Homo sapiens: one gene and its partners. The protein of the gene in region 1 interacts with the protein of each later gene in a pairwise test. Each region holds a gene or a part of one and is shown in the gene's direction. Other genes may lie near its edges. The genes, in order: CCK, ANKEF1, SPRY4, ZBTB8OS, SPRYD7, NFYB and MCFD2.

Region 1 (3,520 bases):
CTGTACGTGGAACGGGGAAGTCAGGGTGTGTGATAAATGCAGCTTCCATGACTGAACATGGTGCCCCCACCGTTAACTGAGGCTGCTTGCTCGTATTGAAGCTGTCACCTTGCTTCCATTAGATGGAAATTTGGGTTGTGCCCAGGCCTTAGAGTGGGCACTCATCATCACAGCAGGCAGAAGGATGGGTCATGTTTCCATGTGACTGTGTACAGGTAACTGGGTCTATAGGTTTTCCTGAATTCAAGGGTAATATTTCACCTGAATGATGAACAATTAAATAGCAGGGGCTATTTTTCTTCTACGTAGGCTGAGGATATCTGCAAAAAGACCTGAAATGTGCTGAATTGACTGTTGGTTCCAAAACTGGGAAGGGTTGGGGTTGGGGAGAGAAAGGGTGGGGACGTTGTTCTGTGTTGTTTCTGTTTTTAATTAAACTTGCTTAATTTCATTACCCAGGGTAACTGCCTTTGCATTTTCATTTATCAACACATAAGCCATAGTCTGACTCTACTCAGCCTATGGGTAGGAGCTGGCAAGGGCAGCCTCATGCAGAAGGGATATAGACCAGCATGACAGGAGGTGGGGATACAGTGGCCCCCAACACAGTGGGAGTCATTGAGTGGTCCTCCACTCCTCTACCCTTGATTTGGCCTGGGCTTTGTCCATTGAAGTCCCTGAAGGGCCTTTCTTAAGACTGAGCTTGCACAGGAGAAGGTGTTCTGCTGATTTCATACCCCAGGAGGCTTCTGTCTATGAACTTTGAGCTAGGACTGTCTCATGTCTCCAAATAAACTGCCTCTTCATGTCCCTGCTCACTCAGTGTGAGCTCTACAAAAGGATCACACTGTTCCTGAAGACTTAACTTCCATCCCAATGGGACAATTTCAGGTTCAGTTATTGCATTTTGGTCAAAATTGCTGATTTAAATCACCTTTGTTATCACCTCTCTCCCCCCCTTCTTTGAGTCTTACTGAGGTGCCAAGATTTAATCCGACAGTCTTTTTCTGAATATCATTTTTAATTGATATTGATTTATCATTAAAAATAAAATGATCATCAACTCAAAACACTTACTGATAAATGACAAAAGCTTTCTGAATATAACTTTCAAATTCATATTTTTAAAAGAGTATTTATGTAGCAAAGGAGCTTTATTTATCTATTTTTTATTATACTTTAAGTTCTGGGGTACATGTGCAGAACATGCAGGTTTGTTACATAGGTATACACATGCCATGGTGGTTTGCTGCACCCATCAACCAGTCATCTACATTAGGTATTTCCCCTAATGCTATCCCTCCCCTAACCCCCACCCCCCGATAGGCCCTGGTGTGTGATGTTCCCCTCCCTGTGTCCATGTATTCTCATTGTTCAACTTCCACTTATGAGTGAGAACATGCGGTGTTTGGTCTTCTGTTCCTGTGTTAGTTTGCTGAGAATGATGGTTTCCAGCTTCATCCATGTCCCTGCAAAGGACATGAACGCATCCTTTTTATGGCTGCATAGTACTCCATGGTGTAAATGTGCCACATTTTCTTTATCCAGTCTATCATTGATGGGCATTTAGATTGGTTCCAAGTCTTTGCTATTGTGAATAGTGCTGCAGTAAACGTACATGTGCATGTGTCTTTATAGCAGAATGGTTTATAATCCTTTGGGTATATACCCAGTAATGGGATTGCTGGGTCATATGGTATTTCTGGTTCTAGATCCTTGAGGGATTGCCACACTGTCTTCCACAATGGTTGAACTAATTTACACTCCCACCAACGATTTTTTTTTAACCATTCCAACATCAAGATATTATAATTGTGCCACCTTAATAACAAGAGCTCTCCAGGAGTCAGGAATGTTGATGGATATTAAGGGATGAATTTAGGAACAATTAAGTACTGGAAAAATCTTTGGTTGGTTTCTGCTGATGCCATCTACAAAAGGAAAACACCCATCTACCAAAAGAAAGCAAACGGTAGGGAGACTAAGGAAAATCTAGGCAAGTCCCCAGACTGCAAGGCTAGAGAAAATGAATCCACCTAAATACTTGCAGAACGCAAAGCACACCCCTAACTTGTAAATATATTGTCCTCTCTCCAGTTACACAGACATTGGTCCTTCTCCTCTCTCAGATTTTGGTCCATCAGTTCCACTACTTTGATAGCTCTTTGATACCTTTAAGGTGGTGTCTGTTATATTGCGTCTGGCTTTTTCCATTGCTCTCCTTCCCAAATTGAACTAGAGATGCTTTTAGATGCAATGTCCCTGTTTCCTTCCTCCCTGCTCCTTGTAGCTCCTTCTGGACGAATGTCCATCGTTAAGAACCTGCAGAACCTGGACCCCAGCCACAGGATAAGTGACCGGGACTACATGGGCTGGATGGATTTTGGCCGTCGCAGTGCCGAGGAGTATGAGTACCCCTCCTAGAGGACCCAGCCGCCATCAGCCCAACGGGAAGCAACCTCCCAACCCAGAGGAGGCAGAATAAGAAAACAATCACACTCATAACTCATTGTCTGTGGAGTTTGACATTGTATGTATCTATTTATTAAGTTCTCAATGTGAAAAATGTGTCTGTAAGATTGTCCAGTGCAACCACACACCTCACCAGAATTGTGCAAATGGAAGACAAAATGTTTTCTTCATCTGTGACTCCTGGTCTGAAAATGTTGTTATGCTATTAAAGTGATTTCATTCTGCCCTGTCGTTCCCTGCGTCTACTGAGGGCAAAGGGCTCCATTTGGTCCTCAGAACATGCAAGGAGGGAAGCCTGATAGATGCTACACTGGGACAAATCCTTGTAGTAGATGTCCCCAGAAAGGGCTTGGGAAATGCAGCTCAGACTTGGAGCTAACTTTGCTACAGGCCAGGTGGACAGTGAAAGGGCCATCTGTGGGCAACTCCAGAGCCCAGCCCTGGCCACCCTGATCCCCGATCTTATTTACCAATCCTACTCCCATCAGGGTTTCCTTGGGGTTCTCTTGGCCTTTAAACAAGTTACAGGCAGTAACTGGCCATGGTTTTGCATACATTTGATCACTCCATGGCTCTGTGGCACAGAAGTTATCATCCTTTCTTTACAGATGAGGAAACAGGCTCTGAAGAGTGAAAGTGACTGCCCCTTATGCCCCAGCTAAGGAGATTCACAGACTGGAGGGCTTAATGTTCCTAGGCTATCGGGACCTTCATCACTCTAGCACTTCTCCAACTGAGTGCACAGGAATCACCCGGGGAATCTTGTTAAACTGCACATTCTGATTCAACAAGTCTGGGCAGGAGCCTGAGCAAGCTCCAGGTGATGTCAATGCTGCTGGTTGCAGACCGCACTTGGAGCTGCAGTGGTGCAGATAAGAGCCTATAATCGCTTTTCCTTGAGCCCCGCCATGTTTTGGAGTTGGTGGGACTCCAAAGTGCTGGGGAGACTCTGGTAGTTATACAGAGCAGAAGCCAATCTGTCTGTTGGTTCGCTGTAGAAATCAGTGAGGGGAAATAGTCCAAGGCGACACCCAGAGATGATCCAGTA
Region 2 (4,527 bases), on another chromosome or scaffold:
AAAATTCAGAACAGGTATTATCTCTGGGAACAGGAAGAGGAGGATGCAGTGTTGGGAAGAAATACATATAAGTACAGCAGTAGAGGCAGACTTTTTTTTCCTTTTCCTTTTTCCTTTATTTTTCCTAGCTTTCTTTTTCTTTAGCTATGGTATTTCTTTAGCTATGGTATGGTATGGTATGTACTTTCCATATATCATACAGTATATTTTGGTGTGCATGAAATAGTCCTTAATAACATTTTTATTATTTTTTATTTGACGTTTAAGTTCAGGGGTACATGTGCAGATTTGTTATATAGGTAAACTTGTGTCATGTGGTTTTGTTGCACAAATTATTTTCTCACCCAGGTATTAAGATTAGTACCCATTAGTTATTTCTCTTGATCCTCTCCCTCCTCCCACTCTCCACCTTCTACCCTCCAATAGGCCCCAGTGTGTGCTGTTCCCCTCTATGTGTCCATGTGTTCTCATCACTTAGCTCTCACTCATAAGTGAGAACATGCAGTATTGGGTTTTCTGTTTCTGCGTTAGCTTGCCAAGGATAATTGCCTCCAGCTCCATATTCCTGCAAAAGACATAATTTTGTTCCTTTATATGGTTGCATAGTATTCCATGGTGTATATGTACCGCATTATCTTTAGCCAGTCTATCATTGATGAGCACTTAGGTTGATTCCATGTCTTCGCTCTTAACATTTTTAAACAGTCTCTGAGTAGAATAGGGTAGGCTGGTGTAAGGAATTACTGTTTTTAATTGGAAGCAATTACATACTGCATTAAAAAGCATATATATATAGACACACATATATATGTTTTACATTCACATAATCAAACCAAAGCTTTCAGAATTTTCCGCCAAAAAGCATGTGTGGAGGGAGAGAGAGGGGTGTTATGGTGCATTTGTAGGCCCTGAAATAAAGTGATCTCCATATTTGCTTCCATTTGTGTATAAATATTTTTTAAGCATATATGCATCCTAGAGTATGGAAAGAAAATTTCTGGGAAGATTTGCAAGAATCTGTGGCAGTTGAGAGTAGGTTCACTTTCGCTTTATTGTGTAATTTATTGTATTTTTCATTTAATTGTACTTTGTAAACTAAATATTTATTGTATATTTTACTTCATTTTTTAATTGCCATATGCAGCTTTAATTTTATAACTAAATTACGTTCTGACCCAGGGCAGGAGGTGGGAGAAGAGAATGAGAGAAGGGCGGAATCCTCAAGACAGCAGCATTCTGCGCTCCGCCCTGGAACACCCAGCGCAGCTACCCCATCCCGCCCAGGCCGGCCACCTGGCGTCGAAGCCAGGCGCGAGGGGCGGAGGCGGAGGCGGGGGCGGGGGCGGAGGCGGAGGCGGAGGCGGAGGCGGAGGCGGAGGCGGAGGCGGAGGCGGAGGCGAGCACCGCCCCACCGCGCACGCTGCGGTTGCCCCGGCAGCCGCGCCCTGCGTGGCGGAAGCTCACAATCAGCCCGGTCCCTCCGGCTTCCACCCCGCCCCCTGCGCTCACCTGCCCGCGCGCTCGCCTTCCGGGGACCCGGGGCCCATGGACACATACACCCAGCCCTGCTGTCCCGCGCGCCAGCTCACCAGCCCTACCCAAGGGACATCATTCACGCCTGGGCGCCTCCGCCGGGCTCCGGGAGCCCAAGGTCGCGGCTGGGCCAGCGCTGAGCGTCAGAGGACGAGAGCAGGGGCCTCCCCGGTCGCCCCAGCAGGCCCAGGCACATAGGTGCCCAGAGATCCCTGGCTTCTGATCGCCCGGAAGACTAAGAGGTGAGCATGACACATGGCTTTTCCTTTGACGTTACATCTCTACCCCCTCCACTCCTCTCTTCTCCAGATTTTTCTGGAGACTAAAAAGTGGAAAGCACAGTAGAGAACCCCCAACATGTAAACTATCGCTTACACTTGTGGGTGAGCTGAAACCCGCAAAAGTTTGGTGTATTCATAAGGAGCCTATATTGAAGGACTTTGCTAAATGTTTTACAAGGATCATATCTCATTTCCTTTTCACACAGTCCCATGAAGTGGGCACCATTGCTATTGCCAGTTCACAGATGCAGAAACTGAGGTAAAAACTAGGTAGGTAGCATATCCATATTTATATCCAACTAGTTTGTGTAAATAATGATACAGGGAAGGGAGGATCACAACGGATTTCCCCACCTCAAACCCTACATTCCACTGTACCAAGCTTGTCTTCCTCCATTCCTCTTTCTAATGATCCTTCCTTGTCGCACAGCCCCCCTTTGAGAGTTAAATGACCTGAACACACACAGATTCCCACAGATTTTCATGTAATTTCCGAGTATTCAGACCCCGAACATGGACCTCAAGTCAAGACATTCTGCTCTATTCCACTACCTTGGTAGATGGTTAGATGTGACTAAGGTGGCCCAGGGTCATGCTGGGGAAAAGTACAGGTGTGCTTGTATGTGGAGGATCCTATATGCTGCTCAATTTACAAGGAACCCAGGACCCAAGGGCTACACTTGTGTGATTTCCTGCAGTGGGGTGAGCTCTTGGTCAGTCTTAGCAGTTGATTGTGAAGGACACTATACAGGGTGCTGCCCTCTCCCCAGCACTTCAGGGCTTTAGCTGGGAGGGAGGCAGTCCACAGGAAACCGACCCATGGACCTACTGAATTCATCACTGTAGCTGCTAATTAATTCTCCGTTAGAGATGGGTGCTAACAGAGGCAACATTGAAGTCCCTGATTGGGAAATCCTTATTTTCACAAATCAAGTGGCATTGATTCAGTCTAATCATTACCTATGTAGGAGCATCTTGCCCTATTCCATAGATGACACATATACATATGCAGTATGATGACACCGCACCTAATCGGAATATGGCCGATAATAATAAAACAAGCCATAAATAGCAGCTAAGGTGAGTGTCACCAAGCCGTGCAGCAAAGTCCAAGTGGATGACTCTGAGGCAGCCTCAGTTGGTTCCCTAGTCCACCGCATGTTATAAACAGATTAAAAGGCAAAGGAGGCCTGGCCCGGTGGCTCACGCCTGTAGTCCCAACACTTTGGGAGGCTGAGGCGGGTGGATCACCTGAGGTCAAGAGTTCAAGATCAGCCTGGCCAACATGGTGAAACCCTGTCTTTACTAAAAATACAAAAATTAGCCAGGTGTGGTGGTGGGCACCTGTAATCCCAGCTACTCGGGAGGCTGAGGCAGGAGAATCGCTTGAACCCAGGAGGTGGAGGTTGCAGTGAGCCGAGATTGTGCCACTACACTCCAGCCTGGGTGACAGAGTGAGAGTTGGGCTGAGGGTCGAGGGTCATGGGATAGGGCGAGACACCAGGGGAGTGTGTGAGGACAGAAAAGAGTCTTGAGGACCTAGCCCTGGGCACCCAACATAGGCTTCTTGAAATGGGGAGTCAGCAAAGGAGCCTGAGCAGGAGGGGGCATTGGTGTTGGATGGAAGCAGGCGATGGAGATGTTGTGGTGCCTAGAGAGACACATTTAAAGGAGAGAGAGCTCACTGCCGTAGAGAATGTAGGTGAGGGAGCAGGCTTGCGATGGAGAAAAATGGTGCATAGTTTCAACTTTTGTAGTAAGATGGAATCTTTTCATTGCAAATGTTGGAAACTTAGCTAACTAGCTTATACCAAAATAAGGTGACGGGGGAGAAGATGTATTTACCCACAAAGTGGTAGATGGCTTCTGGCACCATGGAATCCATGTTGCAACTAATGCCATCAATCTCAGTCTCTCTCCATCCTCCAAGCATGGACTCTCTCTGTGGCACCCAAGAGAGCTACCTGCGCCCCAGCCCCACACCATACTGCTTAACAACTTCAGCAGAATAGTCTTCCCTCATAGTTCTGGATGATGGGCTGCTGATTGGTTGATGTCTTTTATGCACATATGCTTGAGCTTCAGTGTACCTGGAAAGGGATGGTTCCCTCAAATGGGCCAAGCCTAGGCCACAGACGCTTTCCTCTGGCAGGGGACAGAAGGGACAGCCCCATCCAAACGACCCGGATAGGATTCCCTATGTGATAATGGAGTTCTTTTCTCATAAGAAATGAAGAAACAACTGGTCATACCTAGCATGGCCTGCTACTCAATCCAAAAGATTTTCCGTACAAGGAGGTAAAATTACATACTAGAATGCCCATCACAATTTAACAGGGAGATTGTTTATGAAGATTTGCAGTTTCCTTGCAGCCATTTAACTACATCTTTTCCACTTAAGATGACATAGGAATCACTCATCACATCTCTGATATGTTACAGAGCCCAGTAGATTTGTTTATAATGAACACCTCAAAATTATATGTTTTTATAACACCTTAAAACTATTAAAACCTGCATGATCTCTCTATTTTGCTGGTGTGAAACCATGTAGATAGATGGTGGGAACTCAAACCCTTACCATGGCAATTTAGTTAACCTCAGCTTCTTCATGGTAAAATGGTAAAGTGTGATGAGGAGGGAAGGTTAAATGGATAATAAGAAAACCACCTGGCAAACTATTTTTAATTATGATGGAAGATTTGTTTGAACT
Region 3 (4,090 bases), on another chromosome or scaffold:
TATGGTGAGAAAATAAATCACTGAGGGCTTAGCACGGAGCCTGGCACCAAGAAATGTTTCGTAAATATTAGCCGCTTCCATAATTATTATTTATTATTATTAGAAGGTTGAGTGGAGGTAAAAGTCCCTTCCCTCTTGCCAGTTCGTAAGAGTACCACCTAAACTTGATAGAGGTGCTTCTTTGGCTAAGTGGAGTGCTGGGTTTGTTTCTCTGTCCAGTGTCTTCCAAATTGGCCATCAGTCTCTTCCAAACTGCTTAAATGAGGCAAAACCTCCTCTCTCTTATTTATATTATAAATCTCTTACTACCTTGCAGGGGAAGCAGGGAGCACATATTAAATTGCACTTAAGATTGTCAGCATTGCTCAGAGTGGAGGGTGGGTGTTTCTCAGTGAGTAGAGATTGATCTACCAAATCAACTGAGAGTTGTTTTTTCTTTTTCTTTCTTTCTTTTTTTTTTTCTTGAGACTCAGTCTTGCTCTGTCACTCAGGCTAGAGTGCAGTGGTGCGATATTGGCTCACAGCAACCTCCGCCTCCTGGGTTCAAGTGACTCTCCTGCCTCAGCCTCCCAAGTAACTGGGATTACAGGCACCTGCCACCATGCCTGGCTAATTTTTGTATTTTTAGTAGAGATGGGGGTTTCATCCTGTTGGTCAGGCTGGTCTTGAACTCCTGACCTCAAGTGATCTGCCTACCTTGGCCTCCCAAAAGGCTGAGATTACAGGCATGAGCCACTGCGCCAGGCCTTCTTTCTTTTCTTTTTTTCTTTCTTTTTTTTTTTGAGACATCATTTAGCTGTGCTGAGGGGTTCTTAAATAGGCAGCTCAGAAAATTGTTTTCCTTTGTCAGCCACATAAATTCAGCAGAGGCTCTTGGAGGGTCCCTGCTGGTGAGGGGTGAGGCCAGCAGTGGAACTCTGATTTGGTTTTTGCTGAGCTGGTGGTTGAAAGGAATCCTACTACATCGGGGTTATAATAGGGAAGATACATTTTAGAATATGCCCAGTGGAGCCATCGGATGCTGCATCGTCCCCAGAGAGCCAAGTCATCGTGGGCCAAGCTCCCATCCCCATGTCTGGCCTCAACTGCAGGCCCAGATGTTGACAGCTGCCTCTGGAGGGTTATGGGAGCCTGTGAATGCCAACATCCCCATTGCCTGCAGCGGCTGCTCCCATCCTGGCTTCCTGGTGGGACTTTTCCATGAATTGGGGAATCTGCTTTCTGATTCCAAGGCCTATTAAAATTTCTGAGCATTGCCCATTTCTTTTGCTTTATCTGTAGGACATGGGCTGTTTTTAAAGAACCTCACAAATGAAAAAAAAAAAAAAAAGTGAATCTGCTTAAGGAAAGGGAGTCTTTTACTTTCTTCCACAGCATGACCAGACCCAATCCTGGTCCTGAGAGACAAAACCCAACTATATGGGGCAATAGAAGCTTCAAACTGCTGCCTACATTGTGTTGGCAGGACCCTGAATATTCCTGACATCGGTTTCTGGAACAAGGGACTCATGTTATCATTGTCCGGGGGTGAGGGTTCTGGCTGGTGCTGGAGAATCTTATCCGTGGCATTTTTAATTCTTAGGCCAAGCCACACCCTTTCCTCCAGGCAGCGTCCTCAGTGCTGGACCTTGGGCTCCTAACCCTGGCCTCTTGCCCCAAACTCATTTATTCTAGAAGCAAGGCTTTGGAACACCTATTGAGAATAAGTGGGCAGGCTGAGGTAGCATTCCCTGGAATTCCTACGTTGTCATCAGCCTGATCCTTGGAAAAACTCCTCTCCATAGATGCTTACTTGCATTCCCTCTCTCCAGCCCTGACCACAGGATCTCCAGGGGAGGCTGCTTTGGCAAGTGGCTACTCTTTGGTGGCAGACCTGCCAGACACTTAAGGTAAACTCTGCCACAAGGAAATCGCCAATTCAAAGGTGATGCTATGGTTTCATCCGAAGAGAACATGGGGGCAGGCACTGCCACTAGGTAGGCTTTCTCCAAGACAGGAAAAACAAGGCGTGTAAAGAAATACCAGCATCCTTTTAAGTAGGCAGGGCCATGGGAGCAAAGCCAATAGTTGATGCCCTGCGTGAATGGGAAATATCAGTTGACTGAGCATTGAACCTCGCAGAAAAGACTGGATGCTTTTTGGATTTAGCAGTGTAAGTGATATACATACTGGAGCCCCGTGGATAGCCCCCTTTTTATCCCCTTCATAAACTTTTATCTAGAGCTAGCTTTTTATTTTAGACAGGTTCTAGATAAACCTAACAGCAGAGGGGCAGGATCAGCTCTCCTAATTAGAACATCGTTAGCATCTTGATGCAAATTTAGTAAATGCAAAAGCATTTACTAAAACCCCACCCCATAATACATTAATGCAATGGCCTTTTTTTGGTTTTGTTTTAAAGACTTATCTTTCTCTTTTACCCTCCCTCCCCATTCCCTGGGGTTCTTAAGATTGGGGTGGAATCTTCCCAGAGTGTAATCTTTCCCTTGGATTCCAAATTGTATCCCCTTGAGCAGAGGTCTTGGCCTTCTGCTGCTATTTCTTTAAATTGATCTCCAGCAGAATTCCAAATGTAAAGGTCAGCAGGCAAGGAAATGGCACTTCTAATAGAAAACAATGTGCACTTTCTAAATTTGAACCAAGCAGTTTCCGCTCTTTGATTTAAGTGACTTCCTGGGGTTCCGTGTCAGGCACTGCAGTTGAATCTCTGGCTGGATTCCAACTTAAAATTGCACTCTCTCGGTGAAATTAGAAACTGATCCAGGGTTGGCTTAGCTACTCTAGTAAATAGCATTTAGGCTGAATGTTCAGCTCAGCACTTGGAAATGGGTGATGTGAGTGCCCCTCGAGAGGATTTCCCATCCAAGTTGTCAGAAGCTCACATACCCAGGGATTATTAGCCACTGCAGGTTGCTGCTCTTAAGAAGTGGTAGTAATAAGTTAATATCCTGGATGTGCAGGCATCAGATACAGCCCTTCTCTTGTGAATATCTGAAATAAAGGGCTTGTTTATCCAGCTGATAAACTCCATGGGAGCACCCAGAGCTGTCTGTTGAGTTCACCACATTGTCCCCAGTGCCTGGCACAGTGCTTGGCAGGCAGTGCTTGTAAGTGCTCAGGAGATCTAAACTTATTCCCTGGGGTAGCGATAAATTGTTGCTGCGTGCCAGGTAATATGCTAGGTAATAGATAGTATTTTCTCATTTAATCCTTGCAAGAGCCCATTTTACAGATGACAAAACCAAAATCTAAGGCATAGAGATGAAAGAACTCATTCATAGCAATATTGCTAGACCAAAGTGAGAGTCAAATTTGAGTGTTGTTCCAGAGCCTGTGTTTACATCCACTGAGCTATGTGTCTTAAATAAGGAGCATGTTTCACAGTGACTAAGAGAATGAACTCAGGCTGCCCAGGTTTGAGTCCTGCTACTGATAGTTTTGGATAGTTTTGTGTGACTTTGGACAAATTAATTTCAACATGTCTTTTCTCTAAATAGAAAAGGGGGATAATAGTAGTTACGTTTTAGGCTTATCATGAAGTCAATGACTTAATGCATATGGTGCTTAGGAGAGTACCTCCATCTTAAGTGCTCAGTAGTATTATTTCCACCACTGACTTCTTGTCATTATTAATCATCTTAAGCTTGGGGAGTCACTGGAAAGTCCACAGAGGGATTTTAGTTCCTATGTCAATTGGGCGGCTCCCAAGGACCTGATGGGGGGTGAGGTATTGGCAGGCCACATACTGATGCCTGGAATCCATTCTCTCTTCCTTTTCCCCACCCCACCCCCAGGGCCCCTAGAAGCCTGTTTCTCCGTACAGTCCAGGACCTCCAGCCCCATGGAGCCCCCGATCCCACAGAGCGCCCCCTTGACTCCCAACTCAGTCATGGTCCAGCCCCTTCTTGACAGCCGGATGTCCCACAGCCGGCTCCAGCACCCACTCACCATCCTACCCATTGACCAGGTGAAGACCAGCCATGTGGAGAATGACTACATAGACAACCCTAGCCTGGCCCTGACCACCGGCCCAAAGCGGACCCGGGGCGGGGCCCCAGAGCTGGCCCCGACGCCCGCCCGCTGTGACCAG
Region 4 (4,090 bases), on another chromosome or scaffold:
CCAAAAAAAAAAAAAAAAAAGGAAAAAGAAAAGAACATTCTTAGGATAGAAGCAGTGGCTCACACCTATAATCCCAACACTTTGGGAGGCTGTAATGCCCAACCTGGTATTTACTAACTCTGTTTTTAGACTCTCCCTTTTCCCTTAATCACCTAGTCTTGTTTCCACCTGAATTGACTCTCCCTTAGCTAAGAGAGCCAGAGAGACTCCATCTTGGCTCTTTCACTGGCAGCCCCTTCCTCAAGGACTTAACTTGTGCAAGCTGACTCCTAGCACATCCAAGAATGCAATTAACTGATAAGATACTGTGGCAAGCTATATCCGCAGTTCCCAGGAATTCGTCCGATTGATAAACGCCCAAAGCCCCGGATCTATCACCTTGTAATAGTCTTAAAGCCCCTGCACCTGGAACTGTTTACTTTCCTGTAACCATTTGTCCTTTTAACTTTTTGACTACTTTACTTCCGTAAAATTGTTTTAACTAGACCCCCCCTCCCCTTCCTAAACCAAGGTATAAAAGTTAATCAAGCCCCTTCCTTGGGGCCGAGAGAATTTTGAGCATTAGCCGTCTCTAGGTCGCCGGCTAATAAAAGACTCTTAATTTGTCTCAAAGTGTGGCGTTTTTCTAACTCGCTTGGGTACAACAAGGCCAAGGTGGAAGGATCACTTGAAGCTAGGAGTTTGAGCAACCTGTGCAACCTAGTGAGACCCCCATCTTTTTAATAGAAAAAGAAAAAAAAAAGTAAAAAAAATTAGCTGGGGCCAGGCATGGTGGCTCACGCCTGTAATCCCAGCACTTTGGGAGGCTGAGGCAGGCGGATTACGAGGTCAGGAGTTCAAGACCAGCCTGGCCAACATAGTGAAACCCCCTCTCTACTAAAAATACAAAAAATTAGCCCAGTGTGGTGGTGCACGCCTGTAGTCGTAGCTACTCGGGAGGCTGAGGCAGGAGAATAGCTTGAACCCGGGAGGCAGGGGTTGTGGTGAGCCGAGATCATGCCACTGCACTCCAGCCTGGGCCACAGTCCCAGCTACCTAGAGGCTGAGGCAGGAGGGATCTCTTGAGCCCAGGAGGTCAAGGCTGCTGTGAGCCATGATTGTGCCACTGTACTCCACCTTGGTAGACAGTGAGAACCCATCTCTTTAAAGAAAAAAAAACCAAAAACTAAAACAAAAACTAAAGGCCAAGTGCAGTGGCTAATATCTGTAATCCCAGTACTTTGGGAGGCCAAGGCGGGTGAATCACCTGAGGTCGGGGGTTCGAGACCAGCCTGACAAACATGGAGAAACCCCCGTCTCTACTAAAAATACAAAAAATTAGCCATGCGTGGTGGTGCATCCCTGTAATCCCAGTTACTTGGGAGGCTGAGGCAGGAGAATCGCTTGAACCTGGGAGGCAGAGGTTGCAGTGAGCGGAGATCGTGCCATTGTACTCCAGCCTGGGAAACAAGAGCGAAACTCTATCTCAAAAAAAAAAAAAAAAAGGCCAGGCACGGTGGCTCACGTCTGTAATTCCAGCATTTTGGGAGGCCGAGGCCCGCAGATCACCTGAGGTCAAGGGTTTGAGACCAGCCTGGCCAACATGGTGAAACTCTGTCTCTACTAAAAATACAAAAATTAGCCGTGCGTGGTGGCGCGTGACTGTAATCCCAGCTACTCCGGAGGCTGAGAGCAGGAGAATCCCTTGAATCTGGGAGGCGGAGGTTGCAGTGAGCTAAAATTGGACCATTGCACTCCAGCCTGGACGACAGAGGAAACTCCATTTGAAAAAAAAAAAAAAAAAAAAAGACCTAGAATTGATGGAAAGGGAATGTTCTGGTTAAGATAAAAGATTGTGGAGAACAAAGTTCTTTTGAAGTCCTATAGTGGCTGCCCTTAGAGACAATAGAAGACAAATGTTTCCTATTCAGATGTTAGTTAACATCTTTAGGATTGGGAGGGTCTGGAAGAAAAAGATCTAGCTATGTTAATAGAGATTCTTTACGGATGCAAATTCTCCCCCAGAAAGAACAGCTTTGCCGGGCCATTTCTTTTTTTTTCTTTTTTTTTTTGAGACAGAGTCTCGCTCTGTCACCCAGGCTGGAATGCAGTGGCACCATCTTGGCTCACTGCAACCTCTGTCTCCTGGGTTCAAGCAATTCTCCTACCTCACCCTCCCGAGTAGCTGGGATTACAGGTGCCTGCCACTACGCCCAGCTAATTTTTGCATTTTTAGTAGATACGGGGTTTCACCACGTTGGCCAGGCTGGTCTTGAACTCCTGATCTCAGGTGATTTGCCTGCCTTGGCCTCCCAAAGTGCTGGGATTACAGGTATGAACCACCGCGCCCGGCCCTGGCCATTTCAAAATATGGCAAAGAAACATGCTTTGGGGTAAAATATTTTGATTTTCTTCCTTGTGTTGTATCTTGTAATTTTATGCCAGACTCAGGTTAGAAAGTAAGTCACGATGTATAGGGTTAAATAAAATACTTCTGAAGAGAATTTGTGATTTGTAGGGCATGACTCCCCAAACCCCTTAGATAGGAATTTGGGCAAGATAAAAAAAAATCAGAGTTTAGTTGTCATAATATTCTATGTAACAAAATTGGAAGTATGTACAAAGGTTTTGTTTTGTTTTGTTTTGTTTGAGACAGTCTCGCTCTGTCACCCAGGCTGGAGTGCTGGAGTGCAGTGGCACAATCTCGGCTCACTGCAACCTCCGTCTCCCGGGTTCACGCCATTCTCCCGCCTCAGCCTCCTGAGTAGCTGGGACTACAGGCGCCAGCCACCATGCCCGGCTAATTTTTTTTTTTTTGTATTTTTTAGTAGAGACGGGGTTTCACCATGTTAGCCAGAATGGTCTCGATCTGCTGATCTCGTGATCCGCCCGCCTCGGCCTCCCAAAGTGCTGGGATTACAGGTGTGAGCCACCGTGCCCGGCCTGTATAAAGTACTTTTGTGGCATGTTAAGTGTTGATTACTTGTGGAAAAGAACAATAATTGGCCGGGCGCGGTGGCTCATGCCTGTAATCCCAGCACTTTGGGAGGCCGAGGCGGTGGATCACCTGAGATTGGGAGTTCGAGACCAGCCTGACCAACATGGAGAAACCCCATCTCTACTAAAAATACAAAATTAGCCCGGCGTGGAGGTGCATCCCTGTAATCCCAGCTACTCAGGAGGCTGAGGCAGGAGAATTGTTTGAACCCAGTAGGCAGATGTTTTGGTGAGCTGAGATCGCGCCATTGCACTCCAGCCTGGGCAACAAGAGCAAAATCTGTCTCAAAAAAAAAAAAAAAAAAAAAAAAAACTTGTGTAATTGAGTTGTGAGCTGAACTAGGTCCGTTTTTCATGGAACACTTTTTCTTGAAAGAATGAAAGACATGCTTTTGTTATTCAGACTTCAGTATTTGGCTTGCTCTATTGCCCAGGCTGGAGAGCAGTGGCACGATCTCGGCTTACTGCAACCTCCACCTTCTAGGTTCAAGGGATTCTTCTGCCTCGGCCTCCCGATTAGCTGGGATTACAGGCCCCACCACCATGCCCAGCTAATTTTTTTTTTTTTGTATTTTTAGTAGAGACAGGGTTTCACCGTGTTGGCCAGGCTGGTCTTGAACTCCTGACCTCAGGTGATCGGCCCACCTCGGCCTCCCAAAGTGTTGGGATTACAGGTGTGGGCCTCCACACCCTTGAAAGTGAACAGTGATCTGTCACATCAAGGAAAATAGCTGACAATATTTGTTGATAATGGTAAAATTCAAGTCCAGTTAAAATTTTCAGGCCTGATGAGCTTAATCTCAGCACTTTGGGAGGCCAAGGGGGACAGATGGCTTGAGCCCATAAGTTCGAGACCAGCCTGGGCAACGTGGCAAAACCCTGTCTCTTACAAAACATTAACTAGGTGTGGTGGTGCGTGTCTGTAGTCCTTACCACTTGGGAGACTTGAGGCAGAAGTATCACTTGGACCTTGGAGGTCTAAGCTGTAGTGAGCTGTGATTGTGCCACTGCACTTCAGCCTGGATGACGGAGTGAGACTCCGTCTCAAAAAAGAAAACAAAAAGATTCATTCTAAGTGCATAATAGATCAATGGATTTTAATTTTACAATATGG
Region 5 (4,090 bases), on another chromosome or scaffold:
TGTCTTTATCAATCCATTCTGCTTTATTTTTTATACTATCAACTTTTTTTTTTTTTTTTTTTTGAGACAGAGTCTCACTCTGTCACCCAGACTGGAGTGCAGTGTTGTGATCTTGGCTCACTGCTGCCTCCGCCTCCTGGGTTCAAGATATTCTCGTGCCTCAGCCTCCAGAGTAGCTGGGATTACAGGTGTGTATCACCACACCCAGCTAACTTTTGGGGTTTTTTTGTATTGTTTTGTTTTTTTTGAGACAGAGTCTCATTCCATCGCCAGACTGGAGTGCAGTGGCACGATCTTGGCTCACTGAAACCTCCGCCTCCCAGGTTCAAGCGATTCTCCTGCCTCAGCCTCCCGAGTAGATGGGACTACAAGCACGCACCACCACACCCAGCTAATTTTTGTATTTTTAGTAGAGATGGGGTTTCACCATGTTGGCCAGGATGGTCTTGATCTCTTGACCTTCTGTTCTGCCCGCCTCGGCCTTCCAAAGTGCTGGGATTATAGGTGTGAGCACCTGGCCAACTTTTATATTTTTACTAGAGATGGGGTTTCACCATGTTGGCCAGGCTGATCTCGAACTCCTGAGCTCAAGTGATCTGCCCACCTCGGCCTCCCAAAGTGCTGAGATTATAGGCATGAGCCACCGTGTCCAGCCTATTTTGTATTATCAACTTTAAGTAAACAGGTATATGATTTTTCTGCCTTTGGTTTTGTAAGTCTAAAAATATTTTCTCATTTAAGTTCTTAAATTTGGGTTATAATAAGAACTAATTAGGACTGGCGTGGTGGCTCACACCTATAATCCCAACACTTTGGGAGGCCGAAGCCGGTGGATCACTTGATGTCAGGAGTTTGAGACCAGCCTGGCCAACATGGTGAAACCCCATCTCTACTAAAAATACAAAAAATTAGCCAGACGTGGTAGCGCACTCCTGTAATCCCAGTTACATGGGAGGCTGAGACAGGAAAATCACTTGAACCCAGGAGATGGAGGTTGCAGTGAGCCGAGATCATGCCATTGCACTCCAGCCTGGGCGACAGAGCAAGACTTAGTCTCCACAAAAAAAAATAAAATAAAATAAAATTAAAAAAGAAAGAAAAATAACTAATTAGGCCAGGCACGGTGGCTCATGCCTGTAATCCCAGCAGTTTGGGAGGCCAAGACAGGTGGGTCACTTGAGGTCTGGAGTTCAAGACTAGCCTGGCCAACATGGTGAAACCGTGTGTGGTGGCACACACCTGTAATCGCAACTACTCAGGAGGGTGAGGCGGAGAATCACTTGAACCCAGGAGGCAGAGGTTGCAGTGAGCCGAGATCACACCACTGTGCTCCAGCCTGGGTGACAGAGCAAGACTCCATCTCAAAAAAAAGAAAAAAAAAAAAAAGAACTAATTTAATTACATTTGTTGTAGTTTACTATAAAAGCAGCACTGGTGCAATGACTCATGCCTGTAATCCCAGCACTTTGGGAGGCTGAGGTAAGAGTTGCTCGAGTCCAGGAGTTGAAGACCAGCCTTGAGCAACATAGTGAGAACACGTCTCGACAAAAAATTTTAAAATTATCCAGGTGTGGTTGTACGTGCCTGTAGTCCCAGCTACTTGAGAGGCTGAGCTGAGAGGATCTCTTGAGCCGGGGAGGTCAAGTCTCCTGTGAGCAGTGATCATCGTGCCGCTGCACTCCAGCCTTGGCACCAGAGTAAGACCCTGTCTCAAAAGCAAAATAAAATTAAAATACTAAAATAAAAATAGCAGTATCAATGATGACAAACTGGGATGTCAGAATTATACAATAACAAATATAAATAATAATATGATAATAGCCAAAGCTTGTGATTACCTTTTAGTTTAAGGTTTTCATTAGCCTTCTTTTCTCCTAAAATTACTTTTCAGTCATTTTACCTTCTGTGTCCTTGCATGTAAATGTGTGTTTTAAAACTCAATTTAGTGTTGCATATTGGGTAAGCCTAAAAGCAATTCCTTTATTTACTTGAGTAAATGGAAATTTAGCTTGATATTTGAAATAGGTTAGCCTGAGAAATAAAATAAATATCAGTAGAGTGACAGTTATACAAGTTAACTGTAGCAAATAAGTTTAATGCTCTAAACTGTTTCTTTTATTCAGCATTATTTGTAATGTACTAAGGTTATAGATACTAAATTATATTTCATAAATTGAACTCATAAATCAGTCCAATTAAACCAAGTGTTTTAATAGCCTGATCCTATCAAAGATAAACATAAAACTTAAATCCCTTTACTCTTTTGTCTTCCATCCCTAATCCTTGATCAATCCAATCATTCATTTTGTCTCTTCTTACACTCAGCCTGTAGAAAGAAAAAGACTGCATAACACTGAAGAAGTGTGGTTACAAAGTTACGACTTCCTGGCTGGGCGCAGTAGCTCACGCCTGTAATCCCAGCACTTTGGGAGGCTGAGGCAGGCGGATCACGAGGTCAGGAGATTGAGACCATCCTGGCTAACAGGGTGAAACCCCGTCTCTACTAAAAATACAAAAAATTAGCTGGGTGTGGTGGCGGGTGCCTGTGGTCCCAGCTACTTGGGAGGCTGAGGCAAGAGAATAGCGTGAACCGGGGAGGCGGAGCTTGCAGTGAGCCGAGATCATGCCACTGCACTCCAGCCTGGGTGACAGAGCGAGACTCTGTCTCAAAAAAGAAAACAACAAAACAAAACAAAAAAAAACAAAGTTATGACTTCTAGCCTAATCTGAGCTCTCAATAATTTTCAGCAATTCTTTGTGCATGTCTATGCATTCTGTGCTTCTTGCATTCTCTATTCATCCTCTGAAAATGCCTTGCCTTCTACCTTACAAAAAAAACAGGCAATCACAAGTGAACTCCAGCTTCCCTCTCTTCAGGTCCAATCCTGCCTTCTTTCCATCTCATCCCAGAAGTGGTACTCTGCATGTTGCAAACACTCTATCTGTAGTCTGGATTCCAAACTCCCCAAATCTGGAACGTCACTTTGTCAGTTATTTCATCGATATCTCATGTCATGGGCCTCCCTCTTCAGTGCTTATAAACATTCTAAGCCCCATCCCAAACGCCCTTCTTTGGGCATGCATCCCTCACTAGTCCTGTGTTTCCCCTTCCCTGGATGGCCACATTTCTTCTAGAATAACCTATATCTGCCATCTTTATTGTTTTTCTTTCTTTTTTTTTTTTAACATTTAGGTTCGGGGGTACATGTGAAGGTTTGTTACACAGGTAAACTGGTGTCACGGTGGGGGGTTTGTTGTATAGATTACTTGACTAGCTCAAGGGTAGAGCATTTGACACCTTTATTGTTATTGTTCGTTTGTTCTGCAACCCAATTCAGCTGCCATTACACCACTAATTGAAACCACCCTTGTTAAAATCACTGGTGACTTCATGAATGTCAAATCCAGTATTTACATTTTTTTCTGCATTTATGCTGAAATATAAAGTATATAGTAATGTGCATTAAACTTATATGTGCAATTTAACAAATAGCTATCAAGTGAACACTCACATTATTACCACTTAGATCAAGAAATAGAACATTTTCTTGGCCCAGATGCAGCCCGCACCACAGCTGCATTCCTCACCCAGGGGGAGTAATCACTATTGGGTGGCAGTGCTGATTATTTACTTGCTTTGCTTTACGGTCATGTTTTGTTTTGTCATCACCAGGGTCAAGGTAATGAACATATTCACCACCCCAAAGGTTTCCTTCTGCCTCTTATATCCTACTCACCACTCCCTACCCCAGCCCCAACCAAACAACCACTGATCTGCTTTCTGTCACTACAGATTAGCCCATATTTTCTAGAGTATTATATTAACAAAATCATATGGTCTTTTCTTTTGGTCTGGCTTCTTTCACTCAGCACAATTATTTGAAGATTCATTTATGCTGTAGCATATATCAATAATTCATCAGTTTTTATTGCTGAGAAGTGTAGCATTGTGTGGATATATCACAATTTCTTTATCCTTCACCAGTTGATGGACATTAGGGTTGTTTCCAGTGTGGGACTATTACAAATAAAGCTATTGTGAACGTTTGAAAATATGTCTTTGGATATACACATTCATTTCTCTTGAGTA
Region 6 (3,983 bases), on another chromosome or scaffold:
CCCAAACAACCCTGAGAAGCAGACATTTGGCCAAGATCACAAGCCTGTAAGAAGGGGAGTTGGAATTCAAGTCAGGTTGTCTGATGACAGTGGCATTGCTACTTACTCCTCTTGTCACAATTTGGGGCTTTCATTTGTCTTTTCTTCCATACTTGCCGCAGAAATGTTTAAATACTCTGAGAAACAGTAGGAACTCTATAAATAAAAGATCTCTGTATTTTTACATAATCAAAGCTGGAGAGTTTAATGTGGTGCAGGCCACTCGGTTAGTGGAAGCAGAGGGCATGCCATCCCCAGCTCCGGTTGCAGTGAGTGGATCCAGTGTTGGATTACCCACCTCTGGGATGGTCACTGCTAAGCGAAGCTGAACTCAGGACTGCAGTTTGAGAAAGACAGCGAAGGAGCTTGGCTGCACAGAGGCAAGAACGGGCCACGGATTCTTGCAGCCAAAATGTCATCTGGTTGGGAAAAGCCGCTTGTCAATCTGCAGCTACTAGAGGGGTGGGGGTGGGTGGAAAATGCAGCATCTTAAGTTCAAGATTCAGGGTGAAGGCTGGCTAGACTTAGCAGGGGTCTGCATCTTTAGATGAAATGTGAAAAACACCCAAGCTCAGGGACCAAATGACAGGGAGCGCTGTGCATGCGGCGACGCTAACAGGGACCCAAGGAAAGAAAACACGAGGCGCTGAAGGCGCTCCAGGAGGCCCCCGCCGTTCAGACCCTCCCGGTGGCTCGGGCGCGTCGTCCTAGGGGGCGGCTTCTGTCCTTGGTTTCCCCTTCTTAAAAATCCAGGCGCAGGCAGGCTGAGCTCAGGCGGCTGAGGCACCTCCACGTGGCGGGGGAAGGGGTGACAAAGAGAGGGACGCCCGAGAGATCCCGCTTCGCACAGGCCCGGGTCAGCACCGGGAAGGAGGCCCGCCTAGACCCGAACGGCGCGCCCGGGCAGGGCCCTGGAAGACCTCGCGCCTAGAGGAGCGGCATCCGGAGCGGCGCGGAGGCCTCACAGGAACGCGGGACTGGGCCGGGGGCGGGGCGGGGCCGGGGGCGGGGCGGGGCGGGGCGGGGCCGCGGCGGGCGGGCGCGCGGGCGGCGCGGAGGGAGGGTGTCGCGCCGAGGGAAGCGGCCCGCGGCGGAGGGAGGGGAGGCCGAGTCCTGGAAGCGGAGCTCCGCGCTGGGACTGGTTCCTTCGCAGCCATTTTCTGTCCAACCAAACAGCCGATTGGAGACGGGAGCCAACCAGGGCTGCATTGGAGGTTTGTGTCTCGCTTCGGCCAATGATCGCTCCTAAACCGACTCCACTTTAGCTCGAATGAAATGTCCGTCTCCTCCCGGCGCCGTCCCCGCCGCCAACGCCGCCGCGGCCGGGGGCACTAGCCTCCCGCCCTCCCGCGCGGGCCGAGGCCGGGCCCCGCGCCTGCGAGGCCGCTCCCGCAGCGGGCCGGGCCGGGGAGCGGGCGCGGGGCCGCGGCGCGGCTCTTTGTGCGCCGGGCTGAGGAGCGGCGGGACGCGGGCCAGGCCACCTCACCCTCGCCGCCGTTGAGCTCCGGGCCCGGGGCCGAGGAGGGGCCGCGGGGCTGCGTCGGGGCCCCGCTCTCGACGGCGTCCCGGGCCGGCTCCATTTTGTGCGGGGAGCCGGCCGAGGGGCGGGAGACGCGGCCCGGGCCCTGGCCCCGTAGCCCCGGCGGCGGCGCGAGTCCCCGGGGGCGCCCTCCTCCCGCCCGCGGGGCTGTGGCGGGGCCCGGCGCTTTGTCTGCCCGCACATCCCGGGGGCCGCGCGGCGGGTGGGAGGCAGGCGTTGGGCGCGGGGCCGGGGCGGCCGGGCGAGTCAGGGGATGCGCTCTGGGGGCGGCCTCCTGGCACTCGCAGGGCTGACAGGTCGCCGGGACCAGGCCGTGGGGCCGGGGCCACCCAGGCACCTGCGTGGGGAGGAAGGCATGGCTTTAGCTTCCCCGCAGCCTGGTTTGCGCGTAAAGAATGCAGCCATCTGGCGGTTTGCGGTCCCTGTACTTGCCCCGAAGGTGGGAAGGAAGCCCTTCGGATTGGACTAAGGTTTTAATCATTAGTGGTGGGAGGCGGGAGGATATGCAGGGCCTTAAAGAACGGTAGTCTTAGAGAACAAAGAATTACAGAGCACCCACAAATCGTAATCTCGCCCAAAGCACTCTAACAGGATAATTTAAACAAGGTTAGGTAGCCTGCGACCTTTAAAAAAATGGCATCCCACTAACCCGCATGGACCCCATAGTTGCGTGGTTCGTGCTACAAATCACTGGGGTGGTTTCATCTCTCTTAGTATGGAAACTAATCAGCAACATAAAGTGATGAAAGCAAACGGATCAATATCAGTGGCACTAATCAGTGGGGGGTTTATTTGTAAAGTATTGAAAGTTTAACCAAAATTCCTTAAAAGGCAAATTATTCCTTCCCTGCATTGCTCTTGTATCTTAATTTAAGGATTACTGTATATTGATGCAAAACTCTGGTTGTTGATGCCAAAGAATGGAGGGTGGAGGAAGGGACTACTGCTTTTCTTGGATACAAATTTGCATTTCTTAAAACATTAAACAGATGTATGCATTCCCTTGAGCTTTTACATATATCAACCTGCCCTTAAGAAAATATACACCATATGAGGTGACAGTGTTTTTCTTTAATGTACTGAGTCTAAATATATACTGAATCAACTATTTGGGTGAGTGAGTGTGGTGTGGTATGACTCCCTGCCCACACCCCCCTCTCCCATTCCAAGCAAAATACATAAATATAGCTCCCATGTTTTAAGTGTTCTGAGGGCTTATTTTTTCAAAGACACTCTTTAAAAAATAACATTTCTCGTTACAAGGAAGGACTTTTCTGAGCAGTTTTGGGGTTAGAGGATACTATTAATATTTGAAAAGAAATTATAAATTACTTTTAATATTATAGCAAACGTCAAGCAGTTTTTGCTACCTGGACCTTTTTAGTGGCATTAAAAACTTTCAATTCAGTGGCTACAATTTTTTCTGCTATTTGCTAGATTTCATGCTTGGATGCGTATCAGTATATCTTCTCCCTTTAAAATTAACACTGAAAGGATGTGTTTTTGTTTTGGCATCCTACCCCTCCCCCATTTAATTGTTTCCTTTGAGAAAGAATGGAGCAAATGAGAAATGAAACTTGTAACACAGCAATTGGTACTAATTTGTTCAGCTATTTATGCCTTACAGTGAGACTGAAGTGCTATTTCGATGCAATTTTAGTCAAAAATGGTGGTGCTTCAAAATTATAAATAAGGGTCTTGATTGTGTTGCTTTTTTGATATCTTCTCAGTGCAGAATGTATCTTCATTACAGTATAATCTGAGATTCTTAATTGAAAAGCATTATATTCTCAGATAATTTTTTCCTCCTCTTGAGCTATAGAATGTCTAAATGTTACTCTGAAACATTTAAGAAAACCATCACCAAAAAATTAAGATGATAAGGGGTGTGTTTGCATCTTGAGTGTTAATGTTTTAAGTAATTTAGATGTATAATTTTTGGTCTCTTGCATATTATATAATTTGGTCCCTTTTTGGTGTATTGTAATGAATGTTTATGATGAATATGGCTAAATTCAGGGTTATGTTGGAAAATCCATTTTCTCCTTTCCCCATGGAATTAACTTGTTTTTAAGTTCTCCAAAATAAATCTTTCAAGTCAACAAACATTTATTGGGTGCCTTTTTATACTATTTTATACCATGTACTCCATTGATTAAGAATAGTAGTCAAAATTATACAAGCCCTCTTTAATTTTATGAGAAAAAAAGCCTATAAGTGATACATTTGATGTATTTTTACTATTGATAGATGTTAGGTCCTAATAGATGTTTATCTTTTAGGTTGAAATCACAAAGATTAGACACCTTTTTAGATAGGTGTTCTTCAGCACCACTGACAACACGGTTCTGACAGTATTTCATGACAGTAAGTATATTTTACCATTTTGGTTGTTAATTAGATT
Region 7 (4,090 bases), on another chromosome or scaffold:
CAGCCTCTCAAAGTATTGAGATTACAGGCATAAGCCACCATGCCCAGCCCGATTCCCTGTTTTCAGTGTACCACTTGGAGGAATTTTTTTTCTTTATGTTTATCGATTTGGCTTTTGTTGCATTCCAATGATTAGAAACCTGCAACAGCAAACCAAAATGAGACAAGTTCAAAATCAGTGATTCTTGGCCTTTATCCCACCTCCCTTAAAGAAGGGATATTTTGGACTCATAGTTACTACATGATTAATCACTTGGTTGCTTTTTGGTGTTATCTAAATAGAATTTCCCCCACCCCCAACACACACACACCAAATTGATATACTAAGCATCCAATCACATAGTTGGAGGAAATGGTGCCATGAGTTCCATGATAGATATCTCCAAAAGAAAAGTTTCATCTTCAGTTACAGTGACATTAAAAATTGGCAGCATATCTGCAAAGGTGGTAATCCCCCCAGCTCCCCAAGGACCATGGCACACAGGCTAAGAACCAGCAGCTTCTGTTCCAGGCACTGTGCCTGATACTGGGAATGTGGATTCAGTCCAAGTCCTCTTAAAGCCCATCCAGCAAGGGGCACTGACAAGTAATCAGGCAGTTTTTCAAGAATTCATTCACACACAAGAAAACAAAAGAAAAAAAAGAATTAATTTGCAGCTGTCATCAGCTGTGGACGGGAGCCTTCTGAAGGGAAGCACTTGGGAGCCTGCAGGACGAATACCTACACCAGACTTGGAATTGAAAAGACCTCACTGGAGAAAGAGACATTTGATGTAAATGAGTCTGAAAGGCTTGGGAGGAGCTTGATTCCCTTCTCTGATCCTTCCTGTCCCAGAACTCTAAGATGTGTGGTCAGAACAAGTTGTTCTGCTATGGCCTAGGCAGTCACTGCTAGGAGTAACCTGAAACCTTGTTTTGTGGTACCAGGTACAGTGGCAGTGGCCTTGTCAGGGTCTGGACACGTTTAAAAAATTTTTTTGAGACAGTCTCACTCTCTTGCCCAGGCTGGAGTGCAGTGGTGTGATCTTGGCTCACTGCAATCTCTGCCTCCCGGGTTCAAGCAATTCTTGTGCCTCAGCCTCCCAAATAGCTGGGATTACAGGTGCACGCCACCATGCCCAGCAAATTTTTTTTTGTATTTTTAGTAGAGACGCATTTTGCCACATTGGCCAGGCTGGTCTCAAACTCCTGACCTCAAGTGATCCACTTGCCTCGGCCTCCCGAAGTGTTGGGATCATAGATGTGAGCCACTGTCCCTGGCCAAGGTCTGGGCACTTTTATTTGGTAAAATTGGAAGTGTAGTTTCTGACTGTTTCTGAATTATTTTGTGGAGATAAGAATTAACCGGAAACTCCTTTTGTATCCGATCCATATAGTATTGGGACAAAATTATGGGATAGATTACATTGAATACATATTCATAAAAAATGGTAGCAGATCTCGGCTCACTGCAGGCTCCACCTCCGGGTTCATGCCATTCTCCTGCCGCAGCCTCCCAAGTAGCTGGGACTACAGGTGCCCGCCACCACGCCTGGCTAATTTTTATTTTTGTATTTTTAGTAGAAACGGGATTTCACCGTGTTAGCCAGGGTGGTCTCGATCTCCTGACCTCGTGATCTGCCCGCCTCGGCCTCCCAAAGTGCTGGGATTACAGGCACGAGCCACCATGCCGGCTGAAAATCACAATTCTAATCTCATGTCTCAAGATAATCTTTGTTATTAGTTTGTGTAGGAAATACACATTTTTATTTTACAAAAGTGTATTATTCTTTATTGCTTTTTTGCAGCCTGTTCTTTTTCATTCAATATATATTGAGCATTCTTTCCTATTAAGTATGACATATTGCTTTTTTTTTTTTTTAAACTACAGATATAAAAGGTCTGAGGTGGCCGGGCACGGTGGCTCATGCCTGTAACCCCAGCACTTTGGGAGGCCGAGGCGGGTGGATCACCTGAGGTCTGGAGTTCGAGATCAGCCTGGCCAAGATGGTGAAACCCTGTCTCTACTAAAAACACAAAAATTAGCTGGACGTGGTGACATGCACCTGTAATCCCAGCTACTCGGGAGGCTGAGGCAGGAGAATTGCTTGAACCTGGGAAGCGGAGGTTGCAGTGAGCCAAGATTGCGCCACTGCACTCCAGCCTGGCGAAAGAACAAGACTCTGTCTCAAAAAAATAAAAATTAAAAAATAAAAGGTCTGAGACAGATTGCATTTTGATGTCACTGTTTAGAAGTAGACTAGATTCTAGGTGCTTTTTAGCACCCTGGAAGTTTCTTCCTTTTTTTGGTGGTGGAGGACAGGGTCTCACTCTGTTACCCAGGCTGGAGTGTACTTCAGCCTTGAACTCCTGGGCTCAAGCAATCTTCCTATCTCAGCCTCCTGAGTGGCTGGGACTATAGGGGTGCACTGCTACGCTCAGCTAATTTTTTATTTTTTGTAGAGATGGGGGTCTGACTGTGTTGTCTAGGCTGATCTCAAACTCCTGGCCTCAAGTGATCCTCCTGCCTCAGCCTCCCAAAGTGCTGGGATTACAGGTATGAACCACCATGCCTGGCCTATCCTGGAAGTTAGACATCCCAGTGACTATTGTCCCCTTTAAGGAGGGGGCCATGGGAAGCAATACTGGTAATGGGAAAAACGGATTTGGGAAATTTTTCTAAGTGTTGTAGGGTGGCATACTCACACTTTCAGGGTTCTGCCCTGAGAGCCTTTTAGGATGGGTAAGAGGGACTATAACACCTCTACCTCTCAGCCCCAGGCACAAAGACAGCTACAGCTTCTGAGCTGAGCCCTGTGTGTAGCATGTAAAGGGGATGACCAGTGCCTTATGGTTTGTCTTTACCACTGCTGGTTTGGGGCTGTGGACTACAATTGACCTGTTAGAAATCCCTGGCCTTGTTATCTAGCAGAATCTGTTTTGCCTGTTGGGAAGTGAGTGTTCGGTCAGGTCTTTTGTTTTTGTATGTAGGTCACCTGGCTGTCCTTCACCTTCCTTTTTGAGGTCAGTCTGTCAGCCCTAGGACAGACCAAGACTTTCCATTGAATCAACAATTATTAAAGGCCTGCCTGACCCTTGGCGGGTAATACTGGTGGGGTTAAAGTTCTCCCTGCCCTCCAAGAGCTTGCTCTGTAGCTGACTGTCATCTTATTGACCACAATTCCAAGTGTGGCCAAACCCTGGGAGTTCCTGATGGCATCCTGATTTCTCTGTAACTTTTCTTTCCAGTGCCCGCTCACTGTAGTTACTTGCCACTGTTACCACCCAGGAGGTACAGAACCTTGTCCGCTGCCGCAGACCTTGATCTGACCCGCCTTACCACTCCCTTGGCTACCATGCTCCTGCCTCTAGTCTTGCTTTTGCCACTTCATGCCTTCCCCACTGTGCTGCCAGATGAGTCATTCTGAAACCAAGCTCTGATCTCACCTCCCATTCATGAATTGTAAGTGACTCTCCTGTCTTTCTCTGCAGGAGATGTCAAGCCCTGGCCTAGTGTGCAAAGCCCTGTCCAGTACAGCCTGTCTAGGCCTTGGAGCCACCTCTGTCCTGTCTGCTTCCTACCCTCTAGGCTGCAGCCCAGCTGAACTACTTGTAGTTTCTTTCCCGCTTGTGGGCACCTGCCACTCTGCTCCCACCATTCCTGTGGTCCTTCAGTCCCTGCATATCTGTCCAGGCCCAGCTGAAGTGTCACCAGCTCTATCAGCCTTCTCTGATTTTCCTCCACTCGGAGGAGATTTCTTCCCCTGAACTCCTAGAGGGTTTTCGCTTTCTCTGATAATCTGATATAACTTGCTGGCTGCCTTTCCTGGTGCTCTTGATAGAAAATATTTCTTTCAGGGGACCATAACTTCTGGGAGGCAAGAATAATCTTCCAGTCCCTTCAAGCTTTCACGTGTTGCTTGGCACTCTGCAGGCACTTCAGGAAACCTCGTGAGCCTTCCCCTGCCATTTGAGTGACTTGGAGTGCCCAGGGTCATCCCACAGTCTCAAAGCAGAGCTGGCATTGGGCCGTGTTTGACAAGCTCTCTTCCTAACCTTACTGCTTCATCAGGTTTCCCAGGATCATACCATGTCAAGCCCTGAACGAAACC

Evidence for each region.
Region 2: the proteins of CCK (region 1) and ANKEF1 interact in binary tests that used the Homo sapiens proteins (3 or more experiments, as listed by UniProt).
Region 3: the proteins of CCK (region 1) and SPRY4 interact in binary tests that used the Homo sapiens proteins (3 or more experiments, as listed by UniProt).
Region 4: the proteins of CCK (region 1) and ZBTB8OS interact in binary tests that used the Homo sapiens proteins (3 or more experiments, as listed by UniProt).
Region 5: the proteins of CCK (region 1) and SPRYD7 interact in binary tests that used the Homo sapiens proteins (3 or more experiments, as listed by UniProt).
Region 6: the proteins of CCK (region 1) and NFYB interact in binary tests that used the Homo sapiens proteins (3 or more experiments, as listed by UniProt).
Region 7: the proteins of CCK (region 1) and MCFD2 interact in binary tests that used the Homo sapiens proteins (3 or more experiments, as listed by UniProt).

The regions. Positions count from the first base shown.
Region 1 is NC_000003.12:42,257,002-42,260,521, reverse strand, and holds the end of CCK (cholecystokinin preproprotein), read left to right. Parts: intron 1-2,290; coding exon 2,291-2,424; 3' UTR 2,425-2,696; downstream 2,697-3,520. UniProt on the Homo sapiens protein: This peptide hormone induces gall bladder contraction and the release of pancreatic enzymes in the gut. Its function in the brain is not clear.
Region 2 is NC_000020.11:10,033,559-10,038,085, forward strand, and holds the start of ANKEF1 (ankyrin repeat and EF-hand domain-containing protein 1), read left to right. Parts: upstream 1-1,428; 5' UTR 1,429-1,775; intron 1,776-2,020; 5' UTR 2,021-2,084; intron 2,085-4,527.
Region 3 is NC_000005.10:142,314,860-142,318,949, reverse strand, and holds part of SPRY4 (protein sprouty homolog 4), read left to right. Parts: exon of another isoform or gene 1-1,889; intron 1,890-3,794; coding exon of another isoform or gene 3,795-3,841; coding exon 3,842-4,090. UniProt on the Homo sapiens protein: Suppresses the insulin receptor and EGFR-transduced MAPK signaling pathway, but does not inhibit MAPK activation by a constitutively active mutant Ras. Probably impairs the formation of GTP-Ras.
Region 4 is NC_000001.11:32,640,465-32,644,554, reverse strand, and holds part of ZBTB8OS (protein archease), read left to right. Parts: intron 1-4,090. UniProt on the Homo sapiens protein: Component of the tRNA-splicing ligase complex required to facilitate the enzymatic turnover of catalytic subunit RTCB. Together with DDX1, acts by facilitating the guanylylation of RTCB, a key intermediate step in tRNA ligation.
Region 5 is NC_000013.11:49,915,700-49,919,789, reverse strand, and holds part of SPRYD7 (SPRY domain-containing protein 7), read left to right. Parts: intron 1-1,568; exon of another isoform or gene 1,569-1,697; intron 1,698-2,325; exon of another isoform or gene 2,326-4,090.
Region 6 is NC_000012.12:104,135,411-104,139,393, reverse strand, and holds the start of NFYB (nuclear transcription factor Y subunit beta), read left to right. Parts: upstream 1-1,183; 5' UTR 1,184-1,253; exon of another isoform or gene 1,254-2,185; intron 2,186-3,861; 5' UTR 3,862-3,940; coding exon 3,941-3,946; exon of another isoform or gene 3,947-3,950; intron 3,951-3,983. UniProt on the Homo sapiens protein: Component of the sequence-specific heterotrimeric transcription factor (NF-Y) which specifically recognizes a 5'-CCAAT-3' box motif found in the promoters of its target genes.
Region 7 is NC_000002.12:46,909,225-46,913,314, reverse strand, and holds part of MCFD2 (multiple coagulation factor deficiency protein 2 isoform A precursor), read left to right. Parts: intron 1-2,441; exon of another isoform or gene 2,442-2,535; intron 2,536-4,090. UniProt on the Homo sapiens protein: The MCFD2-LMAN1 complex forms a specific cargo receptor for the ER-to-Golgi transport of selected proteins. Plays a role in the secretion of coagulation factors.